Regions from separate parts of the Homo sapiens genome. Here region 2 is linked to region 1. The links come from fine-mapping of genetic effects on gene expression. Tissue or cell type: unexposed skin. Region 1 holds a variant in brackets; the other region holds the start of a gene. All regions are shown on one strand. Distances are between the middles of the regions.

What was found. PIP is the estimated chance that this variant, and not a neighbour inherited with it, causes the effect.
Region 2: it holds the start of CDCA7L, and the variant in region 1 is fine-mapped to the expression of CDCA7L in unexposed skin (GTEx, PIP 0.97).

The regions. Positions count from the first base shown.
Region 1 is chr7:21,773,296-21,781,295 of GRCh38, forward strand. It overlaps DNAH11 (dynein axonemal heavy chain 11), which reads left to right. Exons shown (of 82, transcript NM_001277115.2): 56 at 471-704; 57 at 5,663-5,809. Among named protein-coding and RNA genes, the nearest start is that of CDCA7L, 170 kb to the right of the region's middle. The variant G/A (reference allele first, on the strand shown) is at 3,125.
Region 2 is chr7:21,941,341-21,949,482 of GRCh38, forward strand. CDCA7L (cell division cycle associated 7 like) reads right to left here and starts at 4,559. Exons shown (of 10, transcript NM_018719.5): 1 at 4,441-4,559. The coding sequence starts at 4,464. RefSeq lists enhancers at 234-854, 4,368-4,517, 4,513-5,223, 4,908-5,157 and a silencer at 4,178-4,227.

The DNA.
Region 1 (8,000 bases):
GTTTTTACATGAGTTCTCATAAAACTGTGAGTTTCTAAGTTTTGGCTTTTTTTTTTTTTTCAGTGACTTTGCAGGGTTATTGCTTCTCTTTGTCTAAAGCTTAGTTTGAAAGCAATGGCAGAAATATTTCTCAGGATATTGTGTCTGTTTCTCCACCTTCTCTTTCACACACTCGGTAGATAAAAATCAAGTTGTGAAGATCTGTATATGCTGGCTTTTGTATTTGGTATGTGGAGCACATAAAAACCCTTTGTCCTACTTGGCAAGAAGAAGGTTACTCAAGCTGAATGCTTTATTGTAATCTCCCAAATCCTGTGGATAGCGCTTAAAGATTAAATAAGTTTTCGTAGGTTATACTATCATTTTTTTTTCTGACTTTTAGAAAAAAAATGATCATTTACTTGATTTTTTTTAAGTTGTATTTTTAATTTGAGAGGATTTCACATGAACTGTAATGTTTGTGTTTTCAGCCAGTGCACAAAGACTCTATTAGCCTTTTCATGGCACATGTTCACACCACTGTAAATGAAATGAGTACCAGATATTACCAGAATGAGAGAAGACACAACTATACCACCCCAAAGAGTTTTCTAGAACAAATATCACTGTTTAAGAACCTGTTGAAGAAGAAGCAAAATGAGGTATCCGAGAAAAAAGAACGCCTGGTGAACGGCATCCAAAAGCTAAAAACCACAGCCTCTCAGGTATGACCAGGATGTGTTATTACTGAGTAATATTTATGCTGTTTAACAGAAAAATATATTTCCTTTTGAAGCACTACTAAATCCATTTCTATAAGATGCCAGCTGGTGAAATTTACAGTTTCATGACACCAAGAATACACTGCTACTGCTTTCAAAAGCCTACAATGGGATTGGCCGACTCACAGCTGGATTAGGGTGAAACGTTCTCTTCCTGGCCTGACTCAGTGTAAGGTAGTGTGGGATATTGAAGGGAGCAGACACAGCGGATTGCCTCTCTTGTCTCTGACTTCTTCAGTGCACGGTACTTGTCGTCAAGGTTCTTATCATCCTAGGATGGACCAGTATCTTTTTTGGTCTCAGATTCTCAACCTCCAGTGAGGGCATCATTTTCTGGCTAATGACTGTGGCGAGATCCCAAGGTAGAGCTGTTCCTCCCTTAGTGACTTGTCTGCTCCTCTTACACATCTGTGTCCTCAGTCCTGAGGCCCCTGCTCCCTCGAAGGGCGATGCCTCTAACTTGCAGGAGTAAATCAGGAGAGAATCATCACAGGATGTTAATCATGTGTGGGTCTGTACACATATTATCATTATTTCGTTGTTAAAAAAGGATTTCATGAAGTAGTTGTTACTACTATAGTTTTATATATGAGGCGTAAAGAGTTTAAGGCCAGAGAGCCAGTGAGGTTGGGTTTTAGACCCAGGTCTGTGTTGCTCTGATGCCCATGAGTTGTCCATGGCACTGTGCTGCCTCTCTGTGGCTGGAAAGAAGAGATTGGAATGAGAGACTCTGAAGACTTTGAAGAGTAGCCCAGCCTTATTCTGAGCCAGTCAGGACTTAGAGCTGGAGTGAGAAGAATCCTCACTAGTGATCACCTCAAGACTAGAAATACTGGTGGCCTTCTCAGAGTCATGTCATCAGGTCAGACTCTCATATGCTTTACAAGGATTGGGGCAGTGGTTTCCCCGAGTGGCCTGGGTAACCCACCTGTGGCTAGGCTAGAAATGAACTGAGACCCGAAGGAGGGAGCACCTTTTCAAATGGGCACCTTTTCACTCTGAAGGGCTCTCTGGCCATGTCCTTCAGTCACTCTGGGCCAAAGCACCACTTGCCTCTTTTTCTCTTAGTTTTCTATACCAAGAATGACTCTGTGACAAAACACTGTGATCTGTACTAATAGTGAGTAGATGGACCACAATTAGGAAAGAGAAACCAGGGTGAGTAGGTTTCCAGGACGGTTGGGATCAAGTGATATTAAGAATAGTTTCTAGGAAACCCACAAATAGCATATCCATATTTGTGCACCTTCTCCTTTCCTCTCAAAGAACGTCTGTCTAGGCCAGGCACAGTGGCTCACACCTTTAATCCCAGCACTTTGGGAGGCTGAAGGGGGAGGATTGCTTGAGTCCAGGAGTTTGAGACCAGCCTGGACAACAAAATGAGACCCAATCTCTACAAAAGAATTTTTTAATGAGCCGAGCATGGTGGCGCACACCTGTAGACCCAGCCACTTGAAAGGCTGAGGCAGGAGGATCCCTTGAGCCCAAGAGTTTGAGGTTACAGTGTGTTGAGTGGGTCACTGAACTCCAACCTGAGCAACAGAGTGAGACCCTGTCTCAAAAAAAAAAAACAAGTCTGTCTTTCCTGTCTCTTTTTATTCACAGCTTATTTTACTTTCTTAACTTTTGCCCCTCTCCATGTCAGTTTTCTTCTATCTGTCTATCCTCTTCTGTCTCATTTAAATCAAGACCCCTTTCCATAAGAAAGATTTTCCCTGGAGTCCTGTTGGGCTAGATAAGACGAGGAAGGAGCTCTGTTTCACAAAGCATTTATATCCCTTTGAATGCCGTCCTAAACTGAACCTGTTGACTTTGCCCACTATCAGGAAATGATAGTATTGTCACCCAAACTGAGCTTTCAATACTGTGGGGGCATCCTTAGCAAAGAGATAAGTGCTTCTGCCATACTTAAAGGTTGTGAGCTAAAAGCAAGTGGGGTACCATCCTGGACCATTCCAGTGGTGGCAGCATCTCAGCCACAGGAAAAAAGAAGAGGAGAGAGACTGTGATTTCTTAATAGTCACCTCAGTTACACATTGATGAGTCAGGGGGATGGGCAAGGAGAGAGACGGGAGGGCCGATTCACTATGTCTGCCAAGTCCAGGGCTGCTTGGGTCTCTTTACTTCCCCTTAGCTAAGAACCACAGGCAGAAAGTCTGTAAAGACACAAGACATCTTGATTGACCATGAAGTCTGATGGAAAGACTGACGGTGATTTCTTTTCATTAGGTATTTGTGCATGGAATGCTCTTACTATCAAAAAAGTGGTTGGAATATTCAATAGCTACATGGCAGTTTTAGAAATAAGTGGGTTATAAAAAGGGGATGGTTTCCTATGTGGAGAATTGGAGAACCATATTGCA[G/A]AAGATCAGGTTGTATGGAGAGCGTAATGCCTGTATATTGGGGCATGTATCCTCTAAGGGTCTGCCTTAAGGAATGCCACATCATTTGAAAACATTAGCAATGTTCCTTCTTTACAGTAAAGCTGTAAGCACCTTTTATAGCCAAATAACCTCTCTCTAGATGTCAGCTTAGGTCATCACAGATAGTCCTAGTGACCTTTCTTCATAGAGAAAGCCTTGCTTCCACGGCTTCAGTCACTTTGAATATTTCAGAGCTAACAGCTTCCTTAGAAACTGAAATTAGGGCTTGAAATAACATAATTTTGTCCTAGTCTCTTGGGTGATTCTTTTTGCTTTATTTCTATTTTGAGATGATAATAGATTCAGAAGAAATTACAAAGCATAGTACAGACAGGTCCCTGTCACATCTTATAGGTTCAATGGTAGCATCCTGCATAACTAGTACAATGCCAAAACCAGGAAAGTGGCATTGGTACAATCCACAGACCTTATTCAGATTTCCAGTTTTATTTGTACGTGTGTGTGTGTGTGTGTGTGTGTGTGTATGTTTTATGCAGTTTTATCACATGTAGGTCTGGGTACTCACTAACACAGTCAAGACACAGAAAACTTCCATCTACAGAAAGATCCCATGTTGCCATTTTATAACCACACCTACGTTACCCCCCACTTCTTCCCCACCTCCTGAATCCTAGTTCCTGGCCATCACTAATCTATTCTCCATTTCTATAGTTTTGTCATTTCAAAAATGCTATACAAATATGTAACCATTGGGTATTGGTTTTCTTCATTCAGCATAATTCCCCTGAGATCCAACCGAGGTATTGGGTGTATCCATAATTTGTCCTTTTTTATTGTTGAGCAGTATTCCACAGAATGAAGGTAGCACAATTTAACCATTCAACCACTGAAGGGCATCTGGGTTATTTCTGGGTTTTGGCAATTATAAATAAAGCTGTTATGAATACCCGTGTACAGGTTTTTTTTTTTGTAGGCATAAATCCACAAACAACCAAAAATGAAATTACTGAATTGTGTGGTACTTGGATGTTTACATTTATAGAAAACAGGCAAATTCTTTCCATAATGGCTGTGACATAATACATTACTACCAGCAGTGTATGAGAGAGCCAGTTTCTCAGCTCGCTTGCAATAATTTGGTGGCATCTCTAATTTTTATTTTAACCATTCTAATAGGCGTGTAGTGATATGGTGGTTTTACTTGAATTTTCCTGATGGATGATTCTTTTGACTATGGCCTAATCTAATACTAGTTTCATATGGCTAAAAAGAACTGAGAAGCATGTCACTATGCAAAGTTACCCTGAATTTATAGACAGGCTGAAAAATCAGTCATAGCTTAATCTATAATAGTACAAGTAGCAGCCATAGTAGTAATCATGCTTTTTAGATAGAGTGTGAATATACTGTGTTGGGTGGAAACTACAAGATTACTTGGATATAGTAATGGGGCGTCGTTCCACAAGATGAAACCACTGAAATGTCTTTAGCATTTGAGTTAAAATAAATGTAAATGGTTATGATTGTTCTTTGCTGCTATGATTTTTTAATGGTAATATTTATACTTTTGGAAAAGAAGTGCAGTGGAGAGATAATTATTGTGATGTGTAAAGCTGCTTTCAGATATTTCTGAGAACTGAGTCATGTTTTTTTTCTCTAGTACCTCACTTCTGCTTTTAGTTACATGACCCTCAAACTGAGGAACCTAGTAATGCTTTCTGAACCTGATGAAATTATAACTGAAAAAAATGGACAGTTCTTTTTAGCAGATGAATTCATGGATTCCTCGGAAGGCTGAGTTCTCCAAGAGCTGAGTAAGGTTATTTAGTGATGGACTGATGGGAGACGTGTATGCCTCTGAAGCTCACTGAGTTTTGGCCACAGCATACTAATACCCCAAACACACAGTTTGCTCTTCTTAGCAGGTATTAAGTTGAATATTGGGTTAGCTTCATGATCATAAATGAGGTGAAAAAAATCAAGAGGCCTATTTTCTGTTTGATGGGAAGAGGTGAGACCTATCAGTGGGCATTTTAATATGCAGCCAATTAATCTGCAGTCAGGCAAGGAGCATTCATGTCGTCAACTTACTGAAGCCTCCAGCAACCTTCTGTTGGACAGTGAGAGGCATAGTTCTTCCAGCTCATCACCAAGTATGTCTTCCCACAACCTCTGCTTCCTTGAGCCCGAGCTGCCTAGGACCCAAAAGCAGACGTGGGTAAAGGAGCATGTGGTCAGACAGAGGGAAGAGCAACTTCCCTACTTAACCTGTTAGTGCTGACAAAAATTAATTATATTTCCTGCAAAATCATTGGAAAATATTATTCTGTTTGTTCTCATGTGGAGAAAAACAATGTGGCTGCATTTTTGCAAATCAGAAGACAGTGAAAATCAGGGTAGAGACAGATGCAAGATACAAATTGTTAGAGATCCCTGAATTCATTCCCAGCAATAAGCTCTATCTGGGATTTGTTGTGAACAAGGCCAGTGACGTAAGAATAATGACTTTTGCTTTAGGTGGGAGATCTAAAAGCCAGACTTGCCTCTCAAGAAGCCGAGCTGCAACTGAGAAATCATGATGCCGAAGCTCTGATCACAAAGATCGGCCTTCAGACGGAGAAAGTGAGCCGGGAAAAGACCATCGCTGATGCTGAGGAGCGAAAGGTCAGGCTAATTCCAACATTTAGAGTGCGGAGCTATATTTAGCACAAAATAAACCTTGGTAGGTGAACAATTTTGAACAACTTCCTCTCCAGGGAGCATAAAGTCTAAAGAATTATTATAGTTACACATGTAACAGCATTTCACACCGTGATTACCACTTGACCTTTCTTTACATTATGCATTTCCCCAACCTTTTAGCTCTTTTAATGATATGAAAGAACAATAAATACTGAGCTCATTCAAGCATATAATGGATGTGGATCTTGAACATCAGGCCTATTTGTAATACAGTAAAGGTCAGGAAGTCACCTCTGAGGTTTTTAAAGGTTTCCACTTTTTAGGCAAATTGAACAACTCAATTGTTAACAAAGCCCATTCCGTCACTTTGCAAGATGGTTTTCAAATTTTGCATTTTAATAATACAACTGGAGTTTATTATTAAGTCCTAAGCTAAATTTGTTCTTTTTGATTCGATCGAGGCCCTGGCATTCTGTATTATGTTTTATTGTTGGAAATAATTCCCTTTAAGATTATATAGATTCTGCTTTCTTTCTACTCAGGTTTCTAGCAATTCTGAAATAAGTACACTGTCTTTTGTCATCTTCTTTTACCAAAACGTCAGCTACAAATGGAAGACATAGTTTTGTACATCTGATATCTCAAAAGAAATACCATAGTAAACAGAAAAATTTTAATACATACTTGTTTAAAAATTGAGTGTATATGTGTAAGGTAAAAAATTCTTATTTTAGACAAAAAAGTATAATCAGGGCCTAATTAATAAAAAGTTATAAGTTGCTAACATTCTCACAGCCATTGAATCGGTAGTGATTATGCCATTTTTCTTGTATTTTATGTTACCTGAAAATATTTGAGTTTTTCCAGTGGTGTTGCCATTCATATACAATTGAGTTGATTTTCTTTTTTTTTTTCCAATGCATATTGAGCATGTTTTCCTTGCACAACTAAAGGCTTGAAAAGTATATTGAACATCAAAACTCTAAAAGGACAGTTTTAAGAAATAAGATTATGGCATTAAAATTGAAGATAAGGCACATTTGGCATGCCCTATGTGATCAGCGGGCATGTAATTCCTAATTTGGGTTGTAAATGTTTCTGTTGAGTTTCAGATAAGTGGAGAATGTCCTTAAAAGTATATTATTGGGCTGAGTACAGTGGCCTGTAATCCCTGCACTTAGGGAGGCAGAGGCAGGAGGATAGCTTCAGCCCAGGAGTTCGAGACCTGCCTGGACAACATAATGAGACCCCATTCTCCATAAAAGAGGGGCAAAAAAGACAAAGCGTGTTATTCCATTGAGCAATTAGGTATCACACATGATACAGTCACCGTTAGCTAATTCTACCCAGGGAATATTTTTCAGGCATTACACAAACATGTGATGTTCTAGTAATTATATCATAACCTATCATCACAGATACTTTTTGGAAACTTAAAATATAAATACTCTAGAGATTTTTTTTTGCATTTTTACATTTGAATTCCCAAGGAAAAATTACCCTCATAAAAGGAGAAAGAAGTTTTAGCAAATTAGAACTCATCTGACAGGTTGTTTAGTGAAGTTCTTCAAACACAAAGAAGGGACATACTATTTTTTATGTTTAATCCATACCAAGACATAAAAATAAAACTTCTAAACATTTTCATTTTATCCATGGAGCTGGATGTTAATAACAAATATTAACATCTATTTTGTCACCAGGCAGTGTTGTAGACTATTAGGGATATTTGACAAGCAGGGGTCTCTCATGTAGATTACATTGCAGTGGAAAAGACCGACATGAGACAAGTAACACATTGAGAAGCTGGATATTTTGAGATAAGTGCTCTGATGAAAATCCAGTAGAGAGACATGATGGTGGGAAGGAACTATTGTAAATTGGATATTCATGGAAGAAAGTTCTTTTGTAATTAAACTAGAAAGCATCTAGAAATTCATCAATACCTGAATCCATGCTCTGTGTTCACATTTGTCATATGTTCAGCAATGTGCTAGATACTATGCTATGCCATACTAAAGGGGGTGAATATGGACTGTTTCTGGTCCTATGAAATTGGGATCTCAAGTCTTCAAACATGAGCAGTAATTTAAAAGTAATGCTGCATAACTCACAAAGTACACAGCCACGTTTAACATGACTAAATAAATGTTGGGGTTAGAGAATGTCTTGC
Region 2 (8,142 bases), 170 kb after region 1:
GATTCCAACAGCAATCATACTGTAAAGGTTAGACAAAGATGACGACTGTGCTACAGGCAAACACTTCATGGAAACTGCAGAAAATGGGGCACGGAGAGTAGGGGAAGCAGAGAAGTGGTTCAGTGCAGCTTACGGTAACATGTTATTGTTTGTACAATGCAAATTTCACATAAAAGTCATTCCTATGTAAAAGCTTGGTGGATCTTATTCACATTCCCAAACTGACTTTTACAGGCAGTATAAAGCATAATCTGGTGAGTTCCTAAAAAAGAACCAGACTAGCTGCTGTTAACACTCCAGCCCTTCTAGTTAAAGGGAGGAGGGAACAGGGCAAGTTTCCTGACTCACCAAGGCCCGGTGATTCCAGCAGCAAGGGCCAATTCCTTACAAATTGCCCTGAGCAAATTAGTCAATTTAGCCTTATCTTTAAAAGGCAGATAACACAACCTACTTCACAGAACTACAGTGGGGATTAAATCTGATAACTTTTAAGTACTTAGCACAGCATGACTTTTAAAAGGAAGTGATAGTTTCCATTCCTTGGGGGCAAAAAAGGATGGCTCTTAAGGTCTCCCTCTACTCTCCAAACCCAAGGTCCCCCAGGTCCCCATAGCACAGAGCAGGAGCCAGCTGAGCTCTGGCAAAAGCAGAAGAGGAAGGGAGTTCAAGCATGGCCTTCTGGTAGAGAGTGTGGGGAAAGAGGCGTGTTTTCTGTGTCTTTGTTCTTCCACCCTACCAATGCCTAGCACATAACCGGTGCTCAACTGACTATCTGATCAGTGTACTAACCCAGTCAGCAAGCCCTCTATCCTCAGCTGATGATCATGAAGGAAAACAGGCAGGAAACATCAACGATTTATTTGAACTAAAGCTCAGGCCCCTTGCACTGTGAGACTCCACACTTTATTTCTGTGCTGCATGCAGGGTGCTAGCATTTACTACTATGGAAGATACATTTTTCTGAGTGTTAACTTCAGTGGTATTTACCAAATATGCCTCTGAATGGTCCTATTTCAAAAAAACTACAGAAAGCACTGCTTTTCATAAACAAAAAGAACAAAATGGCCCCAGTAGTATTTTCTTATCTCTATCCCTACCTACTTTAAGTAGCCTGTAATCTATTCCATTTTGGTGAATAAAGCCGAGTCTTTTCTAAAACAAAACTGTATACTGGAGGTAAATATTCTAAAACATAACTTTGAGTAAAGGAAAACTCTCAAGAGCAGTTTAAATGTAATGCCTGGCTTATTCTATTCCAATGATGTTCTAATCTTTTTCATTAATTTACTCTAATGTTTGTAATTGTTTTAGGCCACAATTATCTCATTGTTTCCTGGCCTGTGTACCTGATCAGAATCATTATGATCTCTGAGGTTTTCGCCTGATTTTTGAGAATCCTGCTCTGCTATGGATGGGGTAGCCAGCAGAACACAGAACAACCAAGGAGCGTTTTAAATACAAGACTATTAGAGTGGCAAATCATTGTCCTTTCTGTGACCAGCTTCTGGGGCTCTGGAATTACATGTTAAACAACAGGATCAGATGGGAGCACTTTGCAGCTAAGAGACCAATACCAGAAAAATACCCCTTTACCCCTTCAACAGCGTGCTCCTGCCTATTTACAAGAACATTTAGCATCATTTCCTTCTCAAATGGGCCATCCTGTACTCTGGAGCTAGAACAGAGTACGAGGAGAACACTGACATTCAGTGCCTACCAGTTTCTCTCCTACGGAGCTGCAGCAAGCTGGAGCTCCCATGAGCTGCACTGTTGACAGCTCTTAGTCAGGGATCACACCCTTGCCTTTACGAGCTATTTCTGTCATTTTATATAAAAGCACAAAGACACAGTGGTCAGCACGACAAGACTACAGCCTGGGGGAAGCGTAATCACTGTCAGAGGACATCAAATCCAACACACTGGTGGGATGGCAGGAAAGCAGACTCGAAAGTAGTTCAGAGTAAATGAGTCTCCTTGTTTGCTTCTTACTCATAACATTAGGCCTAAGCTGCTTTGCTGAAACACTTAGCTCTGCGCTTTCCAAGCGATAGAAATTATACTTACTCCAATGTGTGAGATGAAAACCCACTGCACACTGAGCTGAGCGACATTTGATGTGCAGTAATGCCACTTCAGGTGGTTCATCACATTGCTTTATTCATAAGGCTGGGGGACAGGGTGGAACCACACGAATTTAACATCTTGCTGTGCCTGAAATGTTCATTAAGTGTTCTTATCCGCAGTCACCTGCCCACCCCACAGAACCACTCTCCACTAATTTAGAGACTATAATCTGTGCACATTTAAATTACGATGAACAGGAACATTTCCACTGGAAAAACCATCACACATCTTTGATTTGCACTGCCAATTAGGTCTTCAGAAAAGGAAAAAAAAAAAAACCCTGATCATCTTACATATAGTAATTTGCCTTAATTGGTGCATAATGGATCGGATATAATTTGTGGGTAACCCCTACATGATAAATAGTTTATTTAACATTTTAGAACTACCAAAAATTAGCCTCATTGTGTGGCAGTAAACGCTCACTTCCAACTACACATTCTGGGACTTCTGAGTTTCCTAAGCATGAATTATGAATATCAGTAGTGGAAGTGCAAAGAACTCTCCAGCTTAACAACAGGAGTGACACATTCCAGAAACATTTTCTGATTACATTCACAAGGAGCTCCGGAGTGATAAATTCCAGATACATTTTCTGACTAAACTCACAAGGAGCTCAAATCTCCATCCAGAGGGTTTGTTTTTTGTTTTTAGTCCTGTAGCAACAGAAACTCCTAGAAGGTTAGGACGCCAGCCGGAAGTGGTGGCTCACGCCTGTAATCCCAGCACTTTGGGAGGCCGAGGCAGGTGGATCACCTGAGGTCAGCAGTTCAAGACCAGACTGGACAACATTGTGAAACCCTGTCTCTACTAAAAAAAAAAAAAAAATACAAAAAATTAGACAGGCGTGGTGGCGGGCGCCTGTAATCCCAGCTACTCGGGACGCTGAGGCAGGAAAATTGCTTGAACCCGGGAGGCGAAGGTTGCAGTGAGCCGAGGTCGCGCCATTACACTCCACCCCGGACAAGAGCGAAACTCCGTCTCCAAAAAAAAAAAAAAAAAAAAAAGGATGCTAATACACGGTAAAAGCCAGTGGCAAAAAATAAAAAATCGAACCCTGTCTCATTCCGTAGGCTTTACTGTTTCCCTTGCTTTTAATAGTTTATCTCACAGGAGGCATTTTAAAAATATTCTCAGAAACATCAACAACAGATTTTTCTCAAGCGACCATTTTCAGGAAGGCTTCAGAAATTACTAAAAGGCCAAAGCTACCGTTAGTGGCTCAGTCTTTGCCGCCAGACTCGGGCAGGTGACAGCGGTTTGGGCTCGGGCGCCGGGCACTCTGCGCCTTCCAACGCTGGCGGCCCCGCCTCCCCTTCTCCCGGGCCAGGCACGCAGGTGGAGGAAAGTAAACACCAGTCGGAAGCAAGGTGGAAGCAGTGAGTCTCGCGACTCTCAATAAAACAAGTGGAAAAAAAAAAAAAAACAATCCTCGCACAAAGCATCTCCGTGCTCCCACAAGCAGAGGCGTGGCTGCTTGTTTCCCTTTTTAAAGGTTGTATTTTTAGTTCTTATGAAAAATGTTTTTATTGCTTACTTCTAAGTAAACATGTATCTCCATTACGATAACGTAGAGAAAAGCTCTTTTAAGAAGTAAAAAGAGAAAACTGAAGTCACGTTCACATTCCCACTACTCACTGAAACGTTTGGGGGAACTTACTCAAGTGTTTGCTAATGAGTTTTAAAGACGAGTTAGGCCCTTAACGCGTAATTGGGGTCGTGCTGTGCATATGATTTGGGATCTTGCAGCTTGTTTAACTCGGCCCAATGACGTTACCATTTCCCCCAAATGGTTACTAATTCCTTGAAAACGTTTACAAAAGTTCTAGAATAAACACTAAAGTTATTATTTTTAAACTCCATTATCCAAGTTGGACTGGTCTGGCGATCGACTGTTAAAAAAAAAAAATTACAACTTTCTTAAGCTTCCTGATCTCTGTGCCAATTCCCGGAGAAAGTGTGGGGAGTGCACAAAAAAAGCCCCTCCCCCGTCTCACGAGGGCTGCAAACGCAGGCGCTGCGCCCCGCTAGCTCCCCGCCTGCACCCCCGGCGGCCACCCGAGACTGAGCAGAGCGCCAGGCTGAGCGCGGTTGTGTGCTGGGGCGACCGGCCTCTGTGGTCCGCGTAGCACAAACGTGACCCACTGCGCACACCTGCAGGGCGCGCCCACTCCGGCACTCAACCGGCTGGGCGCGCCAGATCCCCAGTGCCGCAGCCAAGGGCCACGTTTCCAGCCCAAGGCCAGCAGGACCGGGTGGCAAAGGGAAGTCAAACTGTGGGTGCGTCCGGACGGCGGCGGGCGGCCGGACCCTCACCTGGTAGCGAGTCGCCAACTCCATTCTTCCTAACCGGGCTCCAGTCTCCTCCCAGCACGCGGCCACGGGAGCCCGGACTCACCACGGCCCGGCGCACCAAGAACGCCCCGCGCCCGAGCAGCTAGCGCGCTCCGCCCGGAGCACAGGCGGGCCCCGGGAGGGGCGCACTTGACGCCCTGGACAGGGGGAGCGCGTTGCGCTGCCCCCTCGGTGCCGCCTCACTGGGCCTCGTGGCTCCGATCACGTTCCAACTTCGCGGCCACTGACCTTGTCTTCGCAGGCGGCGCGAGAGGGGGCTGCAGTTGGGCGCGGCAAGAGCAATTACCAGTGTTAGGGCGCCGGGCTCCCCCCTGCAGCAGAGGGAGGGAGTGGAGCCGTCCGGCGGGGTTTAGCGCGGGAGAAATGAGGGGGCTGTCCCGGCGCAGCCTCCAGCTGGCACGCGCGCTGGATACTTGGCAGGGTTTATTCCAGGTCATGCCCTGGGGCGCGAGCTTCTGCTGCAACCCCTGTCTCTGATCCAGGCAAATATTGTAGGGCGGCTTTGGGGCTTGTTTTGTTTTGTTGTTGTAACGGGGCAGGGTTCTCTTTGGGAAGATTCTGTCTCCCAAAACATTTGCTACAGGGTTCACTTTGCAGAACAGGCAACCCAGGTTTCTTTACCAAGGCCCAGGTGGACAGATGCAAACCCGCCTGAAACTTTAGACGGCCATTACACAGTAGGCCTCCACACCCACCAGACAAAGAGTTTGTAGAGGTCAGGAATGCTGACTAATTTAACAGAATTGACCCCGGCATCTACTAAGCATCAGGCACTGGGCTAGTCCTAGGAACAGAAGGGTGAACAAAAACAGGCCCCTGCTCTGTTGGAGTTTACAGCCTGAGAGCCAGTTACCAACCTAATTGCATTATTCTAAATAAATACAATAATGATGCAAATAAGTGTAATAACGATGTAAATTTTATAAATTAGATTTATAATTAATATTAATTTGATACCACTATCAATGACAAATGTAATGATGATGCAAATAAATGTAAATTTGGAGCGATGATGCCATGAGAAAAAAGGCAAGTGGTATTAATGGTGGTGTGAAATAGGAAGACAATCTGATAGAGGTCAGGGAATACTTCTTAGAGTTCAGATATGAAGAGTGAGGAATTAAGTTTGTGGAAATTGTGGGAGAGTTGAAGTAGAGAGTGGGGAGAATGGTAAATGAAGTTGTCCTGAAATCACAGCAGGTTTGCTGGACAGTGTTGCACACCTATTTAGAACCGTGGTCATAGGTTTACAGTAGAGCATCCTGTACGCATAGGACCTTCTGCAGCCCCTCTCAGCTGCTTAGGATCTGACGTTCATCTTTTCTTTATTGAACGAGTGAATGAAATTTGCCAAACATTTACTCAAGCTTGAAGAGAAAACATGGAAAAGGTTTCCTTCCTTCCTTTGGTTAGTTCAGCAAACAACATGTGTTATGTGCTTTCATGTTCCAGCCCTCAGTGTTCTCACTTCCTGGTGGTAGTAAAACCAATACAACATTGTGTGACTTAAAATGTTTTGTTTTTATTGGATAATGTTATTTATTCATTATGGCCACTTCATTTTTATTATGCTTTAGAGTTTTCCTTCACATGCAGTATCTCCTTGAATCCTCTCAATATCCTTCCAGATCCTTATTGTCCACATTTTTAAAATAAGGAAACAGAATCTAAGAAAATACATTAAGAGATCCCTGCCACCCTGCCACTAAGTGACAGCAGCAGACTGCCAAACTGAAAACCATTCCTTATGCCTCCAGATCCAACATTCTTTCCATTTTTCTGTATTTTTTCCCTTTGGCTGCCAGGAAGCTTAGAGTGAAAATTAATTCAATCAGAGCTCTTCTTCCTCTTTTTTTTTTTTTAGATAGTTGCTTCCTCATGAACTGCTGATCTTGTTTGCACTTCTTTTCATTGTAGGTTAAATCAAATCAATTTTGGAAAAGGGAGCACAAATTTGAAGCAGGTCAGATTTTGCAAAACACTTGAAGCAGCCTAGACTAGCTACTTCTGTATCAGGAAACCTGTAAGCTGTTGAACCTTTCTGTTTAGAAATTTGCCATAACTAACCCTAAGTCTTCAGATGACAACCCCTAAATTTTCTTCCTGTGCTTAGCAAAGCCTGTACACGTTTGATGGTATTTAGTAATTGATTATATAGTGGTGTGTTTTGTTTTGTTTTGTTTTGTTTTGTTTTGGTCAGGCTTTGGGAAAATCTCTAAGGAACCAGAGGATTTAAACATGGCACTGCAGTAATACTTTCTAATAATTATTACTGATAGGGTTCACGGGATGTGAGCACTGGGTTTCATCATGGCACTGCAAGAATGAGTGTCCCTTCCAGATGCAACAGTATACATATTGCAACACAGAAAAAGAAGACATAATGTTTGCAACTTCTTTTAAGAAGTCTGTCTAGAAATCCATGCTTGATTGCTTTTTAAATGTTTCCATGAGAGAGTAAAAACTTGGTCCCCAGTACCTTGAACAAGGTAAGAAATTTGTGATTAGAAGCCAAAGGAGTTAATAATGCCACACTAAAATATGCTGCTCTGGCATATTCACTATTTTTAGTTAAAAGCACTTAAAAAAAAAAAAAGCAGGTAGGAGAAGATCACTCTGAACTTAATGTTGTTTCTTAAAAGCAGGAGATAAAATTCCCCTATGAAAGCTGTCCTCCCTACACAAGAAGGAAAGCCACATTCTTATCAAAGACAGGAAATTGAAGCTGAGGGAAATCTGTACAAACAAACCTTGTTAAACTAACCCTTATCTTCTCAGTCACTTCTCCACCCAATTAACTACACTAGCCCATGCCCCTTTGCCTCATCGCATTTTCAGTTTTACTACTCTGTGCAATTCACTATATAAATGTCCAACTCAAACTTCATCCTGGGGTCTTCATTTCCTTAAAAAGGCACCCATGCCACATAAAACTTCGATTAGACAAATCTATATGCTTTTCTCTTGTTAATCTATTTTATGTCAGTTTAATCCTCAGACCCAGCCAGGACCCAAAAGGATGGAGATGAAGTTTTACTCCCCTACAAAGCCATTATTGAACCTCATTAAATGATGTGAGAGAGCTGTAATTGGATGTCAACCCTGGCCCACGATTTTTGCTTTGTAAAAGGAGCCCAAACATCTCTCCTCTATCTGAAGTAGTATCTCTGCCGTCCCCACAGAGCTTAGTTGTGGGCAAACTCCCTAGTCCTCCCCACATAACAGAAAATCGTGCTGGTTTGGTGCTCTGGACAACTCACCAGAGAATCTGCCTTCTGCAGAGAGCTGGAAGCAGCATGAGTCTATAGAAACTGAGAGGTAATTTCATTAGGTCTGCCTCCCCTGCTTGCTTTTGGTCATTTGCCTCTTGGTGTTGTTTCCTTTTCCCACGAAGTTGAAGGCTGCAGTAGCTGAACACCGCACCACTGAACACTGAGACTTAACTTCACTGGCTACTTTATAGATAACGTTCATAGGTCACCGTGGTAACTGTTGCTTCCATTTTTTTTTTTTCTCAGAAACTTAGGCCAGCTTCTGTCCAGTTCAAACTGGTTGAGGCCACTGACTCTTCAAGTGCCTGAGAGGTGGCCTTTTGATGTCAGAGGGTCAAAAACTCCACCCTGAGATCATGCTAACACTGCCATTTTTCTGTACATATGTCCT